Regions from separate parts of the Homo sapiens genome. Here regions 2 and 3 are each linked to region 1. Evidence: fine-mapped QTL for protein levels in blood plasma. A gene starts in region 1. Each other region holds a variant in brackets. All regions are shown on one strand. Distances are between the middles of the regions.

What was found. PIP is the chance, under the fine-mapping model, that this variant and not a neighbour inherited with it causes the effect. The UK Biobank Pharma Proteomics Project read protein levels with antibody pairs (Olink). The fine-mapping took linkage between variants from a reference panel, not from the people measured, so its PIPs are less certain.
Region 2: its variant is fine-mapped to the plasma level of the TNC protein (UK Biobank, PIP above 0.99).
Region 3: its variant is fine-mapped to the plasma level of the TNC protein (UK Biobank, PIP above 0.99).

What each region holds. Positions count from the first base shown.
Region 1 is chr9:115,113,950-115,122,133 of GRCh38, reverse strand. TNC (tenascin C) reads left to right here and starts at 3,977. Exons shown (of 28, transcript NM_002160.4): 1 at 3,977-4,152. LOC124902255 (a long non-coding RNA gene) reads right to left here. Exons shown (of 3, transcript XR_007061746.1): 3 at 1-1,178. LOC101928748 (a long non-coding RNA gene) reads left to right here. Exons shown (of 6, transcript NR_110950.1): 6 at 2,426-2,595. RefSeq lists enhancers at 2,879-3,698, 7,022-8,184.
Region 2 is chr9:115,023,531-115,031,714 of GRCh38, reverse strand. It overlaps TNC (tenascin C), which reads left to right. Exons shown (of 28, transcript NM_002160.4): 23 at 30-162; 24 at 1,310-1,461; 25 at 2,259-2,355; 26 at 5,020-5,181; 27 at 7,579-7,742. Among named protein-coding and RNA genes, the nearest start is that of TNC, 91 kb to the left of the region's middle. The variant T/G (reference allele first, on the strand shown) is at 3,069.
Region 3 is chr9:115,159,150-115,167,333 of GRCh38, reverse strand. All of the region lies in intron 1 of DELEC1 (deleted in esophageal cancer 1), which reads right to left. All of the region lies in intron 1 of LOC124902257 (a long non-coding RNA gene), which reads right to left. Among named protein-coding and RNA genes, the nearest start is that of DELEC1, 21 kb to the right of the region's middle. The variant G/C (reference allele first, on the strand shown) is at 4,759.

The sequences.
Region 1 (8,184 bases):
GTGAATGTGCAAAGGCTTGGAGACTTCTAAATTATTTCTTTAAAGATTTTACTTGAGAGTTTTGAGTTGCTATAATCCCTGGGAATTCCCCACTTGCTAACCAGGACCCTGTGTGTCAGCGGGGAAAGCGATTTTCCCAAAGTCACACAGCGAGTTGATGCAGCATCAAGACTTAGACACTCAACCAATGCTCTCCACTCTGCTGTGCTGACCAGGCATGACTTCTTGGTTGATGGCGCAGCTAAATTGCCATAGTCCATCCATCAGAGAAGCTCTCATATGTCTTGCCACACACTCCATATGGTCTTTGAACTTGATTTTGTCCTTTGTTGTCGAAGGAAAAGCAAGAAGAGTTGGAAAAGACCACTCAACAATGATCTGCAAGCAAGTTGGGAAACCTTGACTCTAACAAAATGCATTTAATTAAATGACTGGCCCACTGTGTGGGATCAGAGATCCATCCCGGCTTTGGAAAAGATTTCTGGTAATTATGGAGTCACATGAGACTTTTGGACTGGAGTTAGCACACCAGATGAGATGAATCCCGGGAAGAGGAGGAGGAAGGTTGGGAACAGTGAAGGAGTATGTAATCAGAGTAGGAAGCAGGGGATTCCATGGGGAAGTGGACACTCAGCTTCCTCAGCACTAGTCCTGGCCAAAATTCCACTCATTGTCTGTTCTGTCTGGAAGAAAAAGTATTACATTTAACAGACCTTTAAAGAAATGAGAATGATCTCACCTGAGGCAAACCATGACATTCCTCTGGTCTCTAAACCACAGCCTCCACCAGCAACTCCTGAATAAGAACTGCAAACAAGCAACAACAAAATCAGTCTTTGGCAGGAAGCTCTGTGCAGGGGTGGTGTTTACATGCATTCATTCTACCCTCTCAAGTGGAAAAAAGTGCTTATGCTTCTCAGAAGGATGCAACCATGAGGGATTAGATGCCAAGAGGTATGGCCTCTGCCAAACAGGAGGAAAAATGGTTCTTCATTTCCATAAACTTCCTCTGCTGTAATGTCTAGTGTGGCTTGGTTGCTCAGTTCTGATTGTGACAGTTTTCTTCCTGGAAAGCAGGCATAGTGGCTTCAGACAAGTCATTCTTCCTCTCAGCACCCCACTTTCTGATCTGTGCGATGGAAGCATTGGACACAATAATCCAGTTTCCTTTTCAGGTTCTATGGTTGTAAAAGGAAGAATTTAATTATAAAGCACAACATGTCAAACATTTATTTGTTCCTCCATTACTTCATTCATTCTATAAACATTTACTGAGCTTCTATGATACCCAAGGCTCTATGCCAGGTACAGAAAAAGCAAGTGTGATCACCAGCCTCAGGAAGCCTAGCATCTAGGAGGAAAATCTAGACATGCACATGTGTAATTATACCATGTAGATGCAATGGATGTCCTAATAGAGTTACAAATGCCATAGTGCATAGAAACATCTCTTCCTAGATGGATTTCTTCCATTTAGGAAGCTCCATAGTGAAGTCAGATCAGAAATGGATGATAAATAGATGTGAGGGCATGGAGGTGAGGAGCCTAGGGCATCATCCTAGCATGAACAAAGTTTGGGTATTGTAGAGTACCTGGTGCATATGGACCCATCTACCAGAAACAGAGGCTGCGAACAGTACAGGGATGGAAAACACGTCCTCGTCTGGGCACTCCTTACTCAAATGCCAAAAAGCTTAAGATGCCACATAGCTTTTTGGAGAAAATGCCTTTTACAAGTAGCCTCTCCTAAAAATGCATAAATCATCTCTTCTCTATGTTATCAGAATACACTTATATGATAGTTGTTAACTTAACCCATAATAGTATTCTTGTTTGTCACCTCTGCTAGCCTTTTCCTGCTTTGAGGGCCAGCCTGGTCATATTTGGCTTAGTTTCCCTGTGATTGACCATACCACTTGTGGTAGACACTAATCAACGATTGTAGAATCCTAAAGAACTGGGGAGAGGAGTTCGAGTTTGAGACATTCCCCGAAAAAGCCATATCTATCTAGTTTTCTAGCATGCGCTCTTGTCTTATTTAAAAACTCACATAGAATTATAAATATATTGATTATATGTTCTATACAAATATAGTTTATATACCATATGACATATATTGTACACTATTCTAATATTTTAATCCCTAACCCAAGAGATTAACTCAGTAGGAACCACTCACTGCTGGTTGAGACACAGCTTCATGCTACTGAAATATCCTTTGGCTAAAGCACAGAATTTAAAACTTCCCAAACAACCAACATTTGAATCAGCCAAAATGGATCAAAAGTTCAAATGAGCGGTTTTATGACATGACTATTTATGGGCTTTCTTGCTGTCTGGGAGGGTCACTTTAGCAGAGAATCCTAAAATACTACAGCCAAAGCAACCGTAGGATGACCTAATCGTGTCTTGCTTTTTTTTTCAGATGGGGAAACTGAGGCCCACAGCAACAATAATAACTGTGGGGATGATATCATTTAATATTGAAAATAAGTGGATAATTGAGACCTCCATTATTAGTAGTTAATTTTTAAAAATCAAAGATCTCTCCTAATTAGCTTTATGGAGCAAATAAATATATTTTCCATATTCAAATATGGCTGTGATTTCTACACAAATGGTGTTAACAATCTAATACAGCATAAAACATTGTTTAAATATCATCATACCCTATTCCTAAACAGTAACGTGTAATAGATCTCTGGAGCCCAGTGTTGTAATATAAACACTTCCCAGGTGTATTCCCTTGGTAAAGTTTCATTACTTCTCTAAACGTCAGTTTTCTTGTGTAAAAAAGAGACACTTGTGTCTATCCTACTTACTGGTTACAAGGATATAATAAAAATAGTGAACAAAAATAGTGTTCATAAAGTACCCTGCACAGCACCTGATTATAGACTTAATAAGGGAGGGCTCAATGGTAGTTGCGTTTTGAATTACATTTAATGCTTCATTTTACTTCACTGTCACAAACTACTATGCTCTGCGGCAGGCTCAGAAGTCTCTAGGCACGGGTGAAGTGCTACTTCTCCACTCCCTTAAATGCCCCTGTATGCCCTGAGGATACTCAATGCATGCTAACCACCAAACGAACGGATGACTCAGAGCTTGGAGGAAATCCACGGCAGGCTGGAAAGCAAAGGCGCAGCTTATGGCTCAAGGATTAGGTTGTTACCTTTTTAAATTATTGCTTTTCTTTAAAGAAAGGGCTGTGGGGGACGCCTTTCAGCACTAAGAGAAAACCTCAGAAATCCTTCCCCCTGGAGACCCAGCTGAGAAGACCACACCAGGCACAGGGCATGAACAATGTCAAAAAGCTACTGCCCTGCAGGACACTGGGGCTGGAACAAAGATGCCTCCCAGCAGCTGGGCAAGGCTGGCTCCCACACAAGAAAAGCAGGGCTGATGTGAGCGTCCCGCACGATCCCCACCTGCTGAGACCTAATCCTGGGTTATCTCTCCGCTGGCCCAGAGAAACCTGAAACCCCCCAGGCTTTTGAAGGGCTTTATCTCCTCTTTCCAGGAACTGGGCTCAGTCCCTGTACTCGCTCCGAGGTGCCACTGAGCAGCTGCTGCCCAGAGCCCAGGCGAGCCCTGGTCCCATTTCCAGCTTGACCAAGTACAAGAGGGGAGCCAGGGCTGCGGATCCTACTCCCTCTTGCTCCCCAGGCATCCGTCTCACAATTAGAAAACCCGTGTGGGGAGCAAAGCAAAAATCACATTTCACTAACAGCTACTCGGGGTCGGGGGCGGGCAGGCGGGAATTCCTACTTTCGCCATAAATTGTATGCAAATGGGTTCCTTCCCTGGCCGAGAGCCAGGAGTGAGTGCGTCTTTCATGAGCTAACCCTGTTCCGCTGGGAGGGCTGTTCCTTTAATTCGCCAACTGAAAAAGTGGGAAAGGATGTCTGGAGGCGAGGCGTCCCATTACAGAGGAAGGAGCTCGCTATATAAGCCAGCCAAAGTTGGCTGCACCGGCCACAGCCTGCCTACTGTCACCCGCCTCTCCCGCGCGCAGATACACGCCCCCGCCTCCGTGGGCACAAAGGCAGCGCTGCTGGGGAACTCGGGGGAACGCGCACGTGGGAACCGCCGCAGCTCCACACTCCAGGTACTTCTTCCAAGGACCTAGGTCTCTCGCCCATCGGAAAGGTAAGTCTGTTTTGCCCTCATCACTAGAGATCCTTATGATGTAAGGATTGCATTCCTGGTACCAAATGAGTTGTGATTTTATATTATAATTACAAAACATATGGGGTTTTTTTTTCCACCGCTGGAAAAAAAAGGAGTGTGTATTGGTTATATCAGATGCACCTTGACTTTTCTGGTCTTGTAATTTTGTTTGTTTTAACTTTATGAATAGTCAGACTTGGAAGGAACTTTTCGTAAAGTTGTTATCTTCTGCTGTTCTGCAGAGGAAAAGTAAAAATTTTCTCTTCAACTGCTCTCCTACTTCTAGTCTGGCTGATTCACCTGTATATATCTTTTATTTTGAGGGTTAGGGCAGTAGAGTTTTAAGGCAGACTTTGCTCATAGCCTGCCCCTGGGATGGGTTAGAGGGAGTTTGATAGAGGAGTGCAGGGAGAATATAAAAGTTTATATCTAAACAGCACTTACATAAAGTTTACAAAGAGTTTTGTACCCATTCCCTCATTTGGTCCTCAAAATATTCACCCTGGAAATGAGAGCTGGGGGACAGAAGAGAGGAGGTGGCTCCTGGGCCAGATGAATAACTGACAGGCAGCTAGAGAGTGGTGGAGAACAGCTTTACTGGGGTGCCTAGAGCCAGCAGCGTCCCACATGTCTCTAGAATCACCTCCTCCTCCTCACCTCTCATCACAGAAAGATCTGAGCAACAACATCCCCCAGGTATGGGAACCCTGCTGCCCCTGGTGTACTTTGGAAAGAACACAGGGGTTCTTCTCACCCATCAGTGTTGTAAGAGGAATAAGAGCTTAGGTTTGAAGCCAGAGGTGTTTGGTATTCTCCCCACCACCATACATATGACCCTGAGAAAGATACATCACTTCCTTAATCCTCAGTTTTCACATCTCTAAAATGGGGACAATAGCGTCTGCTGTCGTTTTGAGGAGAAAATGAGGTATAGAAAGATCAGCAATGACTGCTTAATAACTGGAAGTTTGGATAATCATTGTCATTGCCAAAAACTGCCATCACTCTGGAAGTTAAAAGAGGCATTGAGCCAGTCTTGGATTGTTTCTTGTGTGTTGTTCCTCAGCCCGCCCCCAGCCCCCGCTTTTTATCTCACCCAATCTGAGGGTGTCTCACTAGGCTGGCAGGTCTGAGACTTGGCTGTATTTTACAAGCAGGAGGTTGTGTTGGCACAGGTTGGAGAAAAGGTAGTAGCCCGGGGCTGGAAGTTAATGTCAAATTTTGATTCCAGAATGTCAGGAGGTTTTGAGTTTAGGCATCTGCAGATTCTAAAGCTGACAGCTATGAAGTACGATGCTGTTGGAAACTCTTTGGAAAAGCTTTCTGTCCGGAGGGAGGGCAGGACAGGGAGCACCACTTGAAGAATGAATGCCTCTTTTTCATGTTTTTGTAGACTTTTTCCCCCATTTTTACAGAGCTTTCCCATATGTGTTTTAGAAAGGAAAACTACTATCCATCCCAGCCAGGCAAGCCCAATTCAGGACTGAAGAAGATTTATTCAGTCCTAGACAACCAAGTGAAGAGTTTCTGGCTTTGTGCGCATACAAGTCATTTGCAGGAGATGTAAGTCAGCGTGCTTTGGCCCTTGCATTTCAGGAAGGTGACTGCTTTGTGGGGAAGAAAAAGGTGCACAATATGAGTATTCTCTGGTTTGCTCAAACAGGGTAAATTGGACAAGGATTGAAAGGGATGTTGCCAAGCTCTACAGTCATTAAATATTTTTTTCCTCTATGCTTTGTTTTAAAAACCTAGCTTCTCTATTTTATCCCACACTAACCTCCTCCTTCCCCACTCTAAGAAGTGACTAACGTTTCAGCCCTCAACTTTGTCATTCATATAATGGAGATGACAAACTATGTCTCACAGGGCTCTTGCAACATTCAAATGAGGTAATATATGGCAAACACTTGGCATAGTACCTTCCACATATTAAGGGTTCAATAAATGGAAACTTTTCTTAGTTTCTCTGTTTATCATTTTACAAGGACTTGTCCAAGATTAATATTCTAAGATCATGATTTTTAAACTTATTTTTAATGATGAAAATATTCATTACATGAATTTAGGGCAAACCCCCAGTATATGACAGGTAAATGCAGGGCTGCTTTGGTTGAAGTGGGGTCACAAGGTCTAAAACTTACACCTTTGCTCTTAGCCTCTGGGACATTGCCACAGAATCTTCAATGACAAAAAGCACATTTACAAATCATGAAACCAGGCTGTGTGCATTCTGGTTGCCATTCTGCCCTTCAACAAGGATTTTTGCCCCTCTGAGTCACCATCTGTAGCAGAAGTAAGAGCAAGTCCACAAATAGTGTAATAGACAGGAATATGAATGAGAAATAAAAGACTTAACAAAGGCTATTTTAATTAATTCTAATGACAATGATAGCCAAAATATATGATGAGCCTACTCTCTAAACTGTAGGCTTTTGTGGGATCATCCACAGCATGTCTCTGAGGTATGGACTATATTTGTTGGACAAAGAGATGGCTTCAAGAACAGGGAGACTGAATAACTTTACCAAGGTCCTAGAACTCAGAGTGATACAGCCAGGTTTCACACCCAGGTCCCCGTGATCACCAAGTCAGAGGTACATTCTGCCGTGTTCCTTCTGAATGCTTCTCTGCTTCTTGCCTGCCTTTAGAAGGAAAACACTTCCTTTCTGACTAAATATGCCCCTCCAGGCAGACTGTGGCCACCCATAAATACAGCAGTAGCCTGATCATATAACCAGAATGGAATTTGGAAAGAGAATTCAAGCTGACAGAATGAAAAACATATCCCCCTTAATCCTACCCTTTCTAATGCTAACAATAAATTAAGAGCACATATTCTCTCCTCTCTCTCTAGATTTCTATAGACACCTAGCTGTGCTTTCTTACAAGAAAACATATCCACTGGACCAAAGCGCAGCCCCCTTCATGCTGAAGCCACTTCAGTTTGAAACGTAAAAAGTAGGTTGCAAACATTTAGTTGGCTCGAAATATATGTCCTTTTGTGATGGTAAAACACACAAACACAAAGTTAATAGTGTCACATATGTAATAGGAGGGTTTGCCAATGGTTTCTCATCTCATTCTCACTCAGACACTACAAATTATAAATTACTAGCTCAATTTTAAAGAAATCGACACTCAAGGAAGTTAGGTGACTCATCTGAGGTCTTTCCGTAATTGAGGGGCAGAGCTGGCTTTGACCCAAGCTTTCTAACTAATACCCCACTGTTCTTTCTGCTGTGCTATATTGCCTTCTGAAGTCAGGCTGTGCTGACCAAGTTTAGAACCTTAAATGGTGTCTTTCAGTGAATGATCAAGATGGTGGAGAAGCCCCCAGCTGGCATTGGTGCCTATTGATTTTACAGAATAGCCCTGCATGTATCATTTTTCATGGTTCTCAGCAAAGGTCAGCTCTCAATGGTGCAACTCTCTGCCTGGAAACAGGAAAGTTCAAATTTCAGCCCTGGAAGAGAGAAGAATGAAACTAGAGGTAGCAGTCAGGTCACTCCTGCTGATTTTCATCTCAGAAAAGTAGGCACACAGGTGAGCCAAACATCTGGTTTTAAAAGGGCTGATTGGTAGGTAAAGTGAAATCGGCCTTGGGGCCATGAATCCCAGGACAGCTTGGAAATGGTTGTAGGCTCCGAGCCACAAATTGAGCCACAAATTCAGCGGAAGCCTCAGAGAGGAAGATTATGATTCAAATACCTCTCACTCTGAGAAGATTGTAGGGAATCCCCTTGAATCTTATCCCGGGCCAGTTTGAACACCTTCAACATGTGGGAAACATTAGATGAAGGCTCCCTTCCAAGGAGGAAAACCCCCCTCAAAGTGTGACATGACCAGCCTCCTGCAAACCCCAGGCCATAATTCCATTCAATGTAAAAGACAGAGATGGTGAACTTACCTACCTTCGGGGGCTATACATGCTTTGTGACTTCTCTGTAAAGGAGAAAAGTCTGCAAACCAACCTGATTCTAATCCTGGTGGCCAGACATTTTTCAGTTATGC
Region 2 (8,184 bases), 90 kb after region 1:
AGCCATTATACTTTTTCTTCTGCTCTTAGGAAGTCATTGTGGGTCCAGATACCACCTCCTACAGCCTGGCAGACCTGAGCCCATCCACCCACTACACAGCCAAGATCCAGGCACTCAATGGGCCCCTGAGGAGCAATATGATCCAGACCATCTTCACCACAAGTAAGGAGGCCCAGGGTGCCATCCAGCCTTGAGATCTAACTTTGACTGAATCAACCCTTGACTTCCCCTTTGACTTCTACTTTAAAATTTTCAAACAAACCTCTGAAAAGAATCGATTCACTGCTACTACTTGGAAGCCTGAGGAAAGCAAATGTGGGAGATTATGAGCATCCCGGTGAAAGGAAAGGAGGAAGCCCATCTGGATTCAGTCCCCATTTCTATCACCTGCTAGGTGTGCCTTAAGAATGCTACTTCCATCCTATAATCTTTAGCTTCTTCGTCTATACAGGGAGATTAATAATAAATCCTCTGTCACCAGGACCTTGCAAGTGTTCATGAGGTATTGCATTTGAACTCCTAGCCCAGTATGTGGCCCATATAATTGTGTGGTCCTTTTATTGTCAGAGTTCAACATGAGCTGAAAGTCTCTTTCTTTCTCCTTCATCATGCCAGTGTTTACAAAACCTGTCCACATTCAAAATCACAAATGATCTTCCCACCAAGCTGGTATGGTGAGCCCTATGCCCAAAGTTCTAGTGGGGAAGCAGACACTTTCAGAGACTAAATGACCTGTTCAAGACTATCTTGTGAGTTACAGTCAGAGTTGGGCTCAGATATTCCATGCCCAGGGAGCCTCCCCCTGCACCTGTCACAAAGTATCTTCTGCAGATAGCAAACCTGCAAGTTGTTCCATTGATAAGTAAGAGTGGCATCCATTCCTGAGGACCAGAGGAGCTGGCCTTTGGAGAGCCCTGCCTTTGAAAATTCACGGGACAGTCATTCTGCACACATCTGCTGAAGAAAGTGCTTCCCCTTTGCCAGATCTTATGCCAGATGCTAACTATGAATGTATCCTAAAGATGCTCTTATACTAGGGCTGTGAAATAAATAAGAAAACAGCTCATGATACAACCTCAGATGAATGTCCTCAGATCAGAAAAAAGAACTGCTATGATCATCAGCTCTAAGACCCATCTACTAGGCATAGTTCCAAGATTGCCCATTTCTATGAGTTTTTAATTGTTTGCATCACATTATTGCACCTGGAAATTCCCCAGGCATTCTAGTCCATAGAGTTAAGCTAAGAATTAAGCTCCAGCTCAGTCCTCCTGCACTGAGAGCATCACCATTTCTCCTTATTCCACAGTTGGACTCCTGTACCCCTTCCCCAAGGACTGCTCCCAAGCAATGCTGAATGGAGACACGACCTCTGGCCTCTACACCATTTATCTGAATGGTGATAAGGCTGAGGCGCTGGAAGTCTTCTGTGACATGACCTCTGATGGGGGTGGATGGATTGTGAGTACCACCAGGGACTGCAGAGCCCTCAGGCCTAGGGGAAGAGGGAGAGGGCAAAGCAGGGGAGGAGAAGAGGGTGATCTCCTCCTGATGCACTCTGACACCCCCATGTGTGAGGCCTTGCAAGATAGTGCCTGTCACACAGAGGCACTCAGGAATTCTCTCTTAAACAAAAGAATGGGAAACACGCTGGCTACTTTTTGAAACGGGGAGATAAGTTTCTTGTAGTTTATCTCATCCAATCCTCATCAAACAACTCTGTGATGTATAAATGACAGTTGATCATTGAACCCATTGCTTACATTAATTAGCACTGACTAAGCATTTATTATCTACCAGGCACTGTGCTAAGAGTTTAAGATGAATTATTCCGACCCCATTACCATAGGAGCTGGGTAGTGTATTTTTGAATTAATAAACTCTATTTTTTTAGAACAGTTTTAGGTTCATGGCACAATTAAGTGAACAGAAGTTTTCATATACACCCCACACCCACCCACACAACCTCCCCATTATCAATATCCTGCACCAGAATGGTGCATTTGTTACAATCAATGAACCTACATTGACACATCATTATCACCCAAAACTGGGTGGTATTTTTAATCCCTGTTTTTCAGGTGAGAACACCAAGACTTAAGGAGGGGCAGGTGACCACCCAAAGTTACATAGCAAATTAGGGATGGACAGAATGGAGCCTGATGCTCTCTCCACAGTGCCACACTCCTTCCTCTCACAACGATGCCCTCTTTCCTGCAATAGCTTAAGTACACCCAGATTCATCGATATGTTTATAGGTGTTCCTGAGACGCAAAAACGGACGCGAGAACTTCTACCAAAACTGGAAGGCATATGCTGCTGGATTTGGGGACCGCAGAGAAGAATTCTGGCTTGGTAATGCAGCCCTGCATGTTTATATCTAAAATGCCTGATTCTGCCCTCCTTGTCACTTTTCCTAACCCACAGGGACCTATGGGAGAGAAAGAGATGAGGAAGAAGAACTACTTCTGGTGGCAGACACAGAATGTCAAATTCTTAATGAAAAAGACTATCATTTAAATGCTCTGAATCATCAAAATGTAAACCAAAAAGTATCTGAGACAGATCTCAATCAATTTAGAGGTTTACTTAGCCAACGTTAAGGACACGCCCAGAAAAAAAGAACACAAAGCCACAGGAACAGCCTGTGGTCCATGCCTTTTTTTTTTTTTTTTTTTTCCAGAGATAATATTAAGAGTTTTAGTGTTTAAAGGGGGAAAGCCACAGGAACAACCTGTGGTCCATGACTTTCTTTTTTTTTTTTTTTTTTTTTTTTTTTTTTTTTTTTTTCAGAGATAATGTTGAGAGCTTTAGTATTTAAAGGGGAAAAGTGGGCTGGAGGGATATGGTCACATTACTGAATCCACATGTTGCAAGATAAAAAAAAGAAAAAAGCAGAATGACAAAAAAGAGAATGGTCAATTTTGTATTCATCTCACACTCAGTAAATCGGCACTTTACATAAGATAAAGTGAAGATAGAATAACTATCTGTGGAGATATCTGGCCTTTTATCTGTAGCATCTGCTTAGGGACAAAAGGAGAGGCAGTTTCTCCCATGACTCGGCT[T/G]TCAGTTTATTTTTTTTCCTATTGGCAGAGTTAAATTGGGGTCCCAAGATTTTATTTTCCTTTCACAAAAAGTAAAATCTGATTAAGGAAGAACCAAAACTCAGCCCTTATGTGTTAACCTAGCCTTAAGTCATTCTCTGGACCAGTCATAGAATCCTCCTCACTGATATCATTGATATCTTCCCTCCTGTGCCCCAGGTTGTGCTCCAGGTGCTAAGATGGGTTTCTTAGAGCCATAATATTTAACCCCCATAGCACCCCTACAAAGTACTCAATTGCCACCGGGTGGGCAAGGTGTCAGGTGTCAGAAGTGGTTGACTAGTGGGTTGGTAAGACGAATTTACTAACAACAGTATAGGTTTGAAAAAGGAACGTTTATTAGAAAGAAAGAATGCTGCAAAAGGACTTACAGCCCCTGCAGTGGATTTTTCCTTAGGGGTATTTATGGACCTTAAGGCAGGAGCTTAAGGATAATTTGGACCCTATTAGCCATGTAGAACATGATACATGATTACATTTGTAGACATTTTGGTGCCTTAATGTCAGCAAGGGTTGCAAAATGAGTTTTGATATGCATGTATTCCAGAGATGTATAGAAGTTCCAGTTACCTATAAATTTTTGGGAAATAAACCTGGAACCAGATGCTTGCTTGAGATATACGGAAGCCTAATTACCTTTAAATCCCTCAGTTAAGGGGTTTTTGTCTCCGAGTCCTACTTGATGGTCACCAGGTGATTTTTGCTCTCCTCACCACCTCGCATGGATAAAATCACAGCCTCAAAAAGACTGAGTGGTTTGCCCATAGGAGTCTAACCAATGAACAGTTGAGCTGAAATTTGGAATCTCCTAAGTCAACACTACAATCCTATCACCCATCCATTCATCCATGCAATCCACACTTTCCAACCACCTAACTGCAGAGAACATTGTTCTATGCACCACTGCCTACCCCAGAAAATGTTTATCATATTATAATAAACATTTATCTATATTATTCATTGCCCTTCATTTGTAAGGCACTTTACAAAATTTTATTTGTTTGTTTGTTTGTTTGTTTAGACAGAGTTTCACTCTGTCGCCGAGGCTGGAATGCAGTGGTGTGATCTCAGCTCACTGCAACCTCTGCCTCCTGGGTTCAAGCAATTCGCCTGCCTCAGCCCCCCAGGTAGCTGAGATTACAGGCACCCTCCACCATGCCCTCCTAATTTTTGTATATTCAGTAGAGACAGGGTTTCACCATGTTGGCCAGGCTGGTCTCGAACTCCTGACCTCAGATGATCCGCCCACCTTGGCCTCCCAAAGTGTGGGGATTATGGGCGTGAGCCACCGTGCCTGGCCTGTAAGGCACTTTAGAGTTTAAAAAGTACTTTCACCACCTTATCTCCTTGGATCTTCACTAATGCACTGGGAGGTTGGAAGTGGGGCAAAAATGTCAACCCGATTTTACCTGAGCCTAGTATTACTCCAGCAAGCACAAGACTGAGCTTCAAGCACAGGCCTGTGTGATATGGCCCTTTTTTTTTTTTTTTTGCTTTCTGAGATGGAGTCTTGCTCTGTCACCCAGGCTGGAATGCAGTGGCACAATCTCAGCTCTCTGCAACTTCTGCCTCTCGGGTTCAAGCGATTCTCCTGCCTCAGCCTCCCAAGTAGCTGGGACTACAGGCACCCACCACCACACCCAGCTAATTTTTGTATTTTTAGTAGAGACAGGGTTTCGCCATGTTGGCCAGGCTGATAACGAACTCCTGACCTCAAGTGATTCCCACCACCCCCACCCCCACCCCCTCCCACCCCATCTCTGCCTCCCAAAGTGCTGAGATTACAGGCATGAGCCACTGGGCCCAGTTGGCCCTGTCTTAAGTGTACCCAGTTGCCGCTTTTACAGAGTGAAATAGAAATGAGGGCCTCAGTCACCTGTGCTTCTTAGCAACCCTTGCCTGTCATCCACAGGGCTGGACAACCTGAACAAAATCACAGCCCAGGGGCAGTACGAGCTCCGGGTGGACCTGCGGGACCATGGGGAGACAGCCTTTGCTGTCTATGACAAGTTCAGCGTGGGAGATGCCAAGACTCGCTACAAGCTGAAGGTGGAGGGGTACAGTGGGACAGCAGGTACAGTAGTGGCTGCACGTAGAGCCTACAAAGCCATGGAGACCTTCTTGACATTTACAGTTTATTTCTCTAACTTTCATTCCTTCCTCATTAATCCAGCAATTTATTAAATCAACAAATATTTAAGTACCTACTGAGTGCCAATCCAGAAAAACTACAATTCAAAAGTGTTGGGTAGATATTTGGGTCCTGAAACATTGAGTATGTTGGGAATCAGGGCAATCAGGATTGATTTCTAATGACCATCTTTCAAAAAAAGTGTGTCTTTCTTACCCAGTTTTAGATATCAGTTGTAGACTGATTAAAAAAAAAATTCCCCAAAGGCCTTAATATTCATCCAATCCAGCACTTCTCAATTTACTCTGGGTGTATGGACCCACTGGCGATCTTGTGAATCTCCAGATGCTGACACAGGTTGTCTGGGATGGGGCTGAGATTCTGCATCTTCTCCAAGTTCCCTGGTGATGCCAATATAGCTGGTGTTGCTGGTCTGTGGACCACAGCTTGAGTAGCAAACCATCCACTCCATCACCTAGCTGCTTGAATCTCTTCCAAGACATCCCTGCCATGTGGTCATCTAGTCTCAGCCTGCATCCTCATAAATAGAAGGTCTCACCTCTCAAGTGGCCCCTGCATTCCTTGTCTGGCTCATAACCTTCATTCCAGTCTTGAAGATTTCTTGGACTTGAAGTGGTTTTGTGTGGTTTCCTGGCTCCACATAAGAGGAGAAATAAATAAGGAAACAACATGTATTAAGGCCCTACTAGGTACCATCCTCTTTTGTAGATATTCCACCTGCATTCATCTTATTTATTCCTCATAAAACCATTTTATGAAGACGTTGTTTTTATACAGAGGAGGAAAGAAGTTCAGAAGAGCTCAGTGATTTGTCCAAGGTAAAACAGCTTGTAGAAGGTGGATGCAATCCTGGCTGCAGAAAACTGCATCCGACAATGTTCTCAGTGACAAAGAAGGGTCAGGACTGAGAGTGTGGACCACCCCCATGCAACCCATGCCCACTTTGGGTGGCTTTCTGTTATGTTTGTGAGAGCAGAAGAGATAGAAGCTTGGCACGTTTCCAGCCTCCCTGAGCCCTGAAAGAAAACATCCATAAGGTGAAAAGTCTCCAGATAAAAGGTTGCCAAAGCCAGGCTGAGCCTAAGGAGGCACAAAGCTCTTTTGAGATGGCAGTTTAGTGATAATAAAGAGAGACACCCAGGGGCAAACATTGCTTTAGTTCTTGAATCCCTCAAAGAATGTTGGCATTTTATTACCTGGAAATGAATACCTCTTTGGTTGAGATGGCTTCAGGCAAGAAGAAGAATGTTACAGGGCAAGCAAATTCATTAAGCAGCAGGAATGTGGCCTCTGTTCCTCTCTCTTTGTGCTTCCATTGAGGAATGAGCCATAATATTTCCCTTTACTGAGATAACGTTTGTAAGGCTGCATTTTCTTGTGTGATTTGGCTGCACCCAGGCCTTCTGCAGGAGAGCATCCTGTTTCATTAATATCTACGTGCCGTCCTCATGCTCTGGGTAGCATCATCAGTTAAAAAGGTATCTGGGTTCCTTTGACAACTTGCTCCAAATTATGACGGTAGAATGCCTCAGAGTCTTGAAATGTTTGTGCACAGCACTTGTCTGGATTGGGAGTGAGGAGACCCACAAAGCAATGGTACTGAAATGCTTCAAAAATTCAATATATTAAATTACAAATTAGATTTCCAAATAGTAGTACATGTTAATGGGCTTCTTGTCTAAGAATCACGGAACATGGTCTGATGAATACTTTAAAAAGTAACTATGTGATACAGAGACTATTTAGGGACATCTAATGTCTGAAGGGCTTAATTATGACTAATAAATATTTGTATGTGGGAGAAAAGCATGCCATTATTAAATGCATACTTCTCACCTTACTCTCTGAGGTCTTTATAGAAAGGGAATGCAGAAAAGTCATAAAAATAACAATCATAGTAAGTATTTGTATGCCATGCCACCTGTTTAGCATACACCTTTATTGTCACAATGGCACTACTCAGTATATAGAATCAAAGTGCTGGTTCCATTGTATAGATGAGAAAACTGAGGTTCAACAAGATGCTTGACTTGTGCAAGGTCACAGCTAAAAAGTGAAAAGATGGGATTCGAAGCTAGACTCTCCAAAGCCAGCCACAGCCCTCTTCCCACCACATTATGCTGCTTCTGTCGGAAATAAGTACTGGGGTGACACTCATGTCCCATTCAGTTCCGCATTCAATGCTGACTCTGGGATCAATGTTCAAGGCCAGTCCCACACCCAGAACCTTTCAATTGTCACCTCTGGTTCTGCCCTTTACTGTCCAGGAGGGAAATTTCAGCTGAGATTTCTCAGGTCCATATTTTCTGTCTCTCCCAGGTGACTCCATGGCCTACCACAATGGCAGATCCTTCTCCACCTTTGACAAGGACACAGATTCAGCCATCACCAACTGTGCTCTGTCCTACAAAGGGGCTTTCTGGTACAGGAACTGTCACCGTGTCAACCTGATGGGGAGATATGGGGACAATAACCACAGTCAGGTGAGTGGACCGTGAGGGCCCAGAGCAGGCCAAGCTTGGGAAGCTGGAGGGGGCTAATGGAAGTACAATTTAACTCCCTATCCTAGCAGAGACTAGGAGGCAGGAACCTTACTTGTATGACAACATGTTTTTCCCAAGGCAGTGAGCAATCTCAAGGACACTGCAGGCCAGGTAAAATAGAAACAGCACAGGTTAACCCTTGACAGTCCCAAGGACAAACACTGGTCAAATGGATTCCAAAAACAGAACGCTTTACTCAGACAAAATCTCTGTCTGAACCCCAAAAGTAAAGCAGATAAAAGTGGAGGCCATTTAGGTGAAGCAGGGTTGATGACACAGAACCCCTGGCCTGGGGCATCTTTGGAATCCCAAGAACACCTTAAAATGAAGTCCACAGACTTTAAATCTCCTCCTTTTGTGAAGAAACCAAGGCCCAGAAAAA
Region 3 (8,184 bases), 45 kb before region 1:
ATGATTCAGAACAGCTGAGGGGATCGGGAAGGGCCCCAGGCAATCTCTGCAGGAACCCTTCATTCCAGGGAGTTCCTACGAAGTGTGACTGAAACTCTAGCCATATTTTGTTTTTGTCCTTATTCCCTGGAACACAGACCCAGCAGAAAAGGCAACCAAGATGTTGGGGGAATTGCCCCACACATACAGGATATATGTCAGATTCTAAGAAATGCCATAGGGATTCCAAGGAATAAGGGAGACTTTTCATCCTGAGCTGGCACAGGAGGTCTTTGAGGAGATAGGATTTCAGCCAAGCAGTAAAAGGTAGATTGGATTATTTCAGGGGTGTGGGGTAAATCTTGGGGCAGGCCATTTTATTTATTTATTTATATTTGAGATGGAGTCTCCCTCTGTTGCCCGGGCTGGAGTGCAGTGGCATAATCTCGGCTCACGGCAACCTCCACCTCCCAGGTCCAAGTGATTCTCCTGCCTCAGCCTCCTGAGTAGCTGGAACTATAGGCGCGAGCCACCACACCGAGCTAATTTTTGTGTTTTTAGTAGAGACAGGGTTTCGCCATATTGGCCAGGCTGGTCTCGAACTCCTGACCTCAGGTGATCCACCTGCCTCAGCCTCCCAAAGTGATTGGATTACAGACATGAGCCACCACGCCTATGGTGGCAGGCCATCTTAGTAGAAGGAAGAGAATGTACAAAGAACCAAAGGCAGGAGAATAAGCTCTATTCCAGAGATGGTGTAGAGCAGGAATGCAGGAGCAGTGTGTGAGTGGAGTGGAGGAAAATGAGACCCAAAATGTGGCCTGAGAGCCAGATCCTAAATGCAAGACTAAGGGCAGTGCCCTTTAGGTGAGAAGAGCCACTGAAGTCTCTGAAAACTGAAATGGCATGATAGAAAAGACATTTCGGGGTAACAGGAAGATGACCCTGGTATGATGGAGAGTGGAACTGGAGGGCAAACTGGAGAGGGGCTACTAAAAGGGTTACTAATGGGGAGGCTGTTTAATGTTCCAGGCGAGGTAGGAGGGATCCTAACCAAGGAAGGGTCCAAAGGAGAAGAGGAAACAAAAGTAAGTGAGTCATAAAGAAGGGATCCACAATTAATGGGGTAGGGGTTCTGAAAACAGCTTGGACAGTCATGGAAGAGGACCCTGAGGAGGTGTTAGAGTAGAGCCCTGAATAATGAACAAAATTTAGATAAACAGAAGGGAGTAGGGAGGGCAACATAAGGAAGTACAGCTTTTCAAGGTGAGAAGTCTAACTTGATTAAGTAAAAGTTTTCTGTAGCGGTACTACTGAAGATAAAGGCAGCAAGTTGAAAACTACATGTGTATGTACTATGCTCTTTCTTTTAGTCCTCTTAAGAATGCTATGAGTTCTTCTCTATTAACCCATTTTACAGATGAGGAAATGGAGACTTAGAAAAGATTGTATGCAAATGACCTACATAATTTGTGTGGCCTGGTGCAAAAAGAGCCTTCTTGTTAAAAAATTATTAAGACTTTCAAGGCAGTGACAGCAGAGTAGTAAGCCAAGCCACAAGGCCCTTCTGAGCACCAGGCCCTATACAACTGCCTAAGTCACATGCACATAAAGTCAGCCCTGGTTCTATGACTTGCCCAGCTCCATACAGCAAAAAAAAAAAAAAGAGTCAGAGCTAGAAGTAAAATTGCTCTTGCAGCAGATGAGGAGAAAGTAGGGTTGATGTGAAGGCTCCTGCAGCCTGGATCTCTGCATCATATGGAGTCAAGCCTCCATTATAGCATGAGTGTGAAATAAACTTTTGTTGTTTTAAGCCACTGAAATGTTGGGAGTGTGTATTACTGAAGCATCACCTCTCTCATGCTTACTCATATACTAAAGCACAGAAAAATCTCCTACAGCTGGGGAGGTAGGTCATGAGCCTCAACAGCCAAGACCTGTGTTCTTTCCTCAATATCTATGTCTTCCAATTGCAGGTCACAACCTGTTAGAGAGTCATGAAAACAATCTACTGGGTCACAGGCACATTTTTACACAGGAAATAATTTAATAAGTAAAATATCATAGAAACTGTGTGTGTTACTTATTGCAGTGGTATTTTTTATTAAACTTTTTCCACTACATGTGTGTGTTGAGAGTCACAATAAAAAAAAAAGGTACTTCTGACTATGGGTTATTGTCAAAAATGTTAAAAGCCACTGCTCAACATCATGCTTTTGACACAGGAAAGGAAAAAAAGTCTACACACATCACCCTGACAGCTTGGATACTCATAATACCTTTTGAAAACAGCTAAATGGGAGGACACTTGGGTCCTTATTGTCAATGTAATTAATGCTTTGGATTTTACAGTTTGCCAGATAGAAAGCATTCCAGATCTTAACCAATATGAAACTCAATCTTTGTAATATGCTCCTTTAACTCCATTAATCCTCTATCTCCTCTGCTCCAACTCTTACTCTGCCATAAAAGAATCATGAAGTCATCATTTCGGATACAGGGAACAAACCCTCATTGTCTCATGACAAATTCCGGGCACAGATGTGCCCACTGGAGCAACTACAAAAAAGCAGGCAAGAAGCCACTTTGTCACCAGCACTGGGCCTGGTGCCAGGCCTCTCCCTCTCTTTGAATCCTTGATGGGCTAAGCCCCTCAGAAGTGAGTCATCAAGGATTGCCAGTATCTGCCCAGGGAGGGAGACCCATTTACTTTGAAAAACTCTGCAGGAAATACTTGTGCTTTGCTCTGCCAGAAGCTGTCAAATTTGCTTCTCTCACCACAGCAACTGTGGTTCTGAACCCCACCCCCCGAACCCAACTTATGACAAAAAGAGCATATGAAAGAACTGAAAATAGCCTTTTTTTCAGTTGCTTGGTGAAAATTCCCAGATGTGAGCTGCAATGACTGTGTGGCACTCATATTTCAGTTTTGAGTGTGGATATTTTCTCTGAATGTCTCCTGCAAATTGAATCAAGAAGAACACTATTAATTATTTTAGCCAAGGTTATATTTTTGCTCCAACCTTCTATATGTCCTGATTTTGGGGATGTGGAGGTTTGAGGGGCATTGTCCATGATTATTCTCTGTGCAGTAATTGCCTTCCCCTGAAACAAGATGGTTGCATCAAGCTTGTTGAGTTTTTAACTCTAGAATGTCTATTTTCTTTTCTTTTTTCTTTTTTTTTTTTTTTAGAGATGGAGTCTTGCTCTGCACCCAGGCTGGAATGCAGTGGTGCGATCTCGGCTCACTGCAAGCTCTGCCTCCTGGGTTCACCTGCCATTCTCCTGCCTCAGCCTCCCAAGTGGCTGGGACTACAGGCGCCCGCCACCACGCCCGGCTAATTTTGGTATTTTTAGTAGAGACGGGGTTTCACCGTGTTAGCCAGGATGATCTCGATCTCCTGACCTCGTGATCCACCCACCTCGGTCTCCCAAAGTGCTGGGATTACAGGCGTGAGCCACTGTGCCCGTCCTAGAATGTCTATTTTCTATCGTATTTCCAGATCACCCTAATCTCTGGCAAAGGTGCCTCTTCCATAACCTCCTTCTAGTTTCCAGACTTGCACTCTTGTTTTCACCCACTTTTCTTGCTATCATTTCCAATAGCCAGAGCAATAGTCTTAAATGCAAATCTGACAGCCACTTTCTCTCTTGAAATCCTTCAGTAGTTTTAATGTCTCTCTCCAGACCACATCTCACCAACATTAGCAAAGCTCTGCAGGGAAGGGGACTGGGCTCCTGCTACTCTCAGGGCTCATCCCAGACTATTCTCCTCCTTGGCCTCTGAAATTCACACTAACACACTGTCCTTAAAAGTTTCTGGAATACATCAGTCTTGTACTTGACTTGGGACCTTCACATCTGCTGTTCTTGCTGAACACTATTCTTCTTAATGCTCCAAATTTTTAAAACCTAGTTAGCTTTCAATCTCAGCTATAGTATCACTTTAACAAGAGCTATCTTCTAGCTAAACCAAATCCTTTCAAATTCTCTCCCATCATCTTACTCTTTTCCATTACTGACTGTATTAGTCTGTTCTCACAGTGCTATGAAGAAATACTGGAGACTGGGTAATTTATAAAGAAAAGAGGTTTAATTGACTCACAGTTCCACATGTCTGGGGAGGTCTCAGGAAACTTACAATTATGGTGGAAGGCACTGCTTCACAGGCCAGCAGGAAAGAAAATGAGTGCAAGCAGGGGAAATGCCAGACACTTATGAAACCATCAGATCTTGTGACACTCACTCATTATCACAAGAACAGCATAAGGGAAACTGCCCCAAGATCCAATTGCTTCCAGCTGGCCTTGCCCTTGACATGTGGGGATTATTTCAATTCAAGGTGGGATTTGGGTGGGGACGCAGAGCCAAAAGATATCACTGACCATATCATAATATATAGAAGAGTATAATTTTAACATCTTTCTCCCTCACTAGACTTGGCTTCACAGAAACAAGGACATTGTTTCTTCATTATGTATATTCATATCTTAGCATGGTGCCTGGTACATAGTAGCTAGTAAATAAGTATTTGTTGAATAAATGCTAAAGGCCTTTTAAATGACCTCTCTGAGATCTAAGTGCTTGCAAAATATTTCTTTGACTGGGGAACTGCTATTTTCCTAAGGACAAATAAATGAATCTTCTTCCCTTTTCTTCTTTGGCTTCTGGTAACCAGAGCCGCATATGTATCTCGGATATATTAATCATGTTAGATACATAGGGTTCGAATATTTGTATTTTCTCTTCCCTTGGTCTTGATCTTTTACTTTTAGTGCA[G/C]TTCCTCAGGGGGAGTTTTTGCCATCTTTTTCCATGGTAAATAACATATGATACCACTATTGAATAGCATTACAATCTTTTGTAACAAAACTCAAGATGGCAAGTCACATTTAATTCTTTGAGGAAAGAGGTGAGAGCAAATATTATCTCCAAGGTGTCTGAAGACCTCACATATTTGAGATGCGAAAAGGGAATTGGGCAGCTATCTGAAGACCTGGCTGCCTGTATTAATGCTACTGGACTTGGGCAAACCAAGTCTCAAGCCTCAGACTCTTCATTTACGAATGAGAGGAACTCTGTTGTGCTTAACACACAAGGCTGTTGACATATTGTATGATCGCTTTTAGGTTGAAAAGCAAAACACATGCACACATACCTATGCACACACACCCACTTAAGAATATATGATTATGGGCTGGGTGTGGTGGCTCATACCTGTAATCCCAGCTACTCAGTGCTAAAGCACAAGAATCGCTTGAACCCAGGAGGCAAAGGTTGCAGGGAGCCGACATCATGCCACTGCACTCCAACCTGGGTGACAGAGAGGCTGTCTCAAAAAATATATATATATATATATATAGTTATGATCTCAAGGGGGAACATCTTTGATGAGATCACATTTGATTCTCCCTTTCATGACTAGCTCATGGGCAAAAAAACGTACGTAAAATTTCCCTTTGTTTTACTCATTTTCTCCAGCCTTTCCTCTTGGGTCTTATTCATAAAGCTGCTCAATCATATCAGTCTCAGAGACCCTCACTGGGGAATATCCAAAGACTACCCAGATATTTTCTTTCTACTTCCTATGTTCTCCATCAGAAACTGCCAGTCCTATAAACAGTTTCTCCAAAGTTTCCAGACTTCTAAGTCCTCTAAGGGCTTGTAGCTGATACATTTATCTGGCAAACTAATTAAAGCTAAAAATAACCGACAATGTAGAGAGAAAGATAATTGAGCAATTAATCATAGCATGATGAGGGCTATGGTGGGGGAGGCCCAAAGAAAGGTACAAAGGTTTCCTAGAGGGCTTATGCTGAGCCTGAACACTGGAGGATGGTTATGAGCTTTGCCTTATATTTCTGCACACTAGTTCTGGAACCACACTGAAGTCTAAATTTCTGACAGCCCTGGAGAAATTGCAGGATAGTAAAGGTCTTCCAGGAGGCCACAGGAAGGTTTCTGAGTGTCTTAGTCCATTTGGGCTGCTATAACAAAAATACCATAAACTGGTGGCTTAAACAAAAAATACTTATTTCTTATAGTCTGGGGTCAGAGAAGTCTAAGATCAAAAACTCCAAGATCTAGAATTTCATGAAGGCCCTCTCTTCCTGGTTCACAGAGGATCATCTTCTCTCTGTGTCCTCACATGGCAGAAGTGAAAACAAGCTTTCTCATGACTCTTATAAGGACACTAATTCTATTCATAAGGGTTTCACCCTGATTACCTCATTTAATCCTAATTACCTTTCAAAGGCCCCACCTCCTAATACCATCACATTGGGAAGGAGGACTTCAACATGTTGATTGGAGGAAGGAAAACACAATTACTCAGTTTATAATACTGATGTAATATTGAGTCAAAGAGCTATCTGGCTGCAGAAGGAAACTTATCACATAGGAAGCATGACAAGGTGGGGTCAGTGCTCAAGGTGCATCCCAAGGCCCATGGCAGTAGGAGCAGGAGGAACTCACTGCATGGCACTATAGATAAAACTCAGGACTTGTTGAATGCATCATTCCTCTGGGATCCAGCACTTGTTACCCATCTGCCACGAGGCCAAGTGCAAAACATCTCCCCAGGGATCACCACTCTGGATAAAAGCAATCTAACCAGCAAGGTAGATGCTCATTCCTCGCTGCAAGCCTGTCAATAAGATTTTGGCATTTAGTATGTACCAGGCAGTGTGTTGCAGAGAAAGTAGCAAAGAAGAAAGATCCAGTGCCTGCTCTCAAGAAGCTCAAGGAGGCCAGGCATGGTGGTTCACATCTGTAATGCCACCACTTTGGAAGGCTGAGGTGGGTGGATCACTTGAGGTCAGGAATTTGAGACCAGCCTGGCCAACATGGTGAAACCTCATCTCTACTAAAAATACAAAAATTAGCTGGGCATGGTGGCAAATGCCTGTAATCCCAGATACTCAGGAGGCTGAGGCAGAAGAATCGCTTGAACCCGGGAGGTGGAGGTTGCAGTGAACCAAGATTGCACCATTGCACCCCAGCCTGGGCAACAGAGTCAGACTCCATCTCAAAAATAGTAAATAAATAAGCTCAAGGAATTACCCAAGGTAACAGTCAAGTAAACTGCTGCTGACAAAGCAGTGAATGGACAGAAGTGATTCAGAAGGCATCAACCTGGGAAAAAGGGAAGACCTCCTGGGGCATTTACAGAAGTCCTGTACCACCGAGGATTGGGTGACCATCCTTTTGTCCATGGTAGCTCTCATCTCCATGGCACTCGGCAAATACCAGGGGCTCTATAAATATTTGTTGACTCAGAATTAATTAGTTCCATTTGATTAGTCATTGATCTCTGATTAGCATTTGACAGGGAAAGCAAGGTGACATCTAGTCAGTATCTTTCAGTGGAAAGATCATCAATAGGTTTTGGTATCAAAAATTCTTGGTTTAAGTTCCAACTCTGCCACTCACACCCATGTGAATCTGGGCAAGTGACTTGAACCCTCCAGGTCTAATTTTTTTCACAGTCAACATTAGGATAATATCTCCTTGTGTCATTGTGAGAATTGAATATGAAAATGCACTCAGGTGATATTGAATATGGTAGGTTCTTAGTAAGTATTTGTTCCTAATAATAATGGTAGCAGAAGTGGGTTGATCCTTTAATGTGTGCCAGACAAAGGACATTATATGCATTATAACTTTTAGTCCTTACATCGGCTCCATAAAATGGACCAACTATCACTTCCATTTAGCAGGAGAGAAAACTGAGTCTCAGAGAGTTCAGGCAATGTGTACTATGCCATGCACTGGTCTGAAGTGGAGCTGCACTCTGAAGCCCTATTCTCTCCCATGTCTCTAATCATGATTTTGTTCTCCCACATATGGCCTCCATCTTTTCCCACAGAGACGTCAAGATACTGAAAAGTTTATGCAACTTACACAAGTTCACATGGTTGATCATTGACCATGATGCTGTGATGAAAAAATGCATTCTAGTAAAAGGGACTTCTTACCACGATTAGGCAACAGAGCCCAACACCTCCACTCTTTTTTATAACTGGAAATGATGTGTCATGAGAATACATGGAAAGTTTCAACAATGCCTGACACCGCTATTTCTCTGTTGCTGGTGACTTAGCTTTTCCATTAAGACCCACAAGGGAAGGAGAGCAACAAAATCCCAGCATGTCCCATCACCCAGCCCAGAATGCCCTCCCCCAAGAAGGTTCTGAGGTGTCAGGAAAC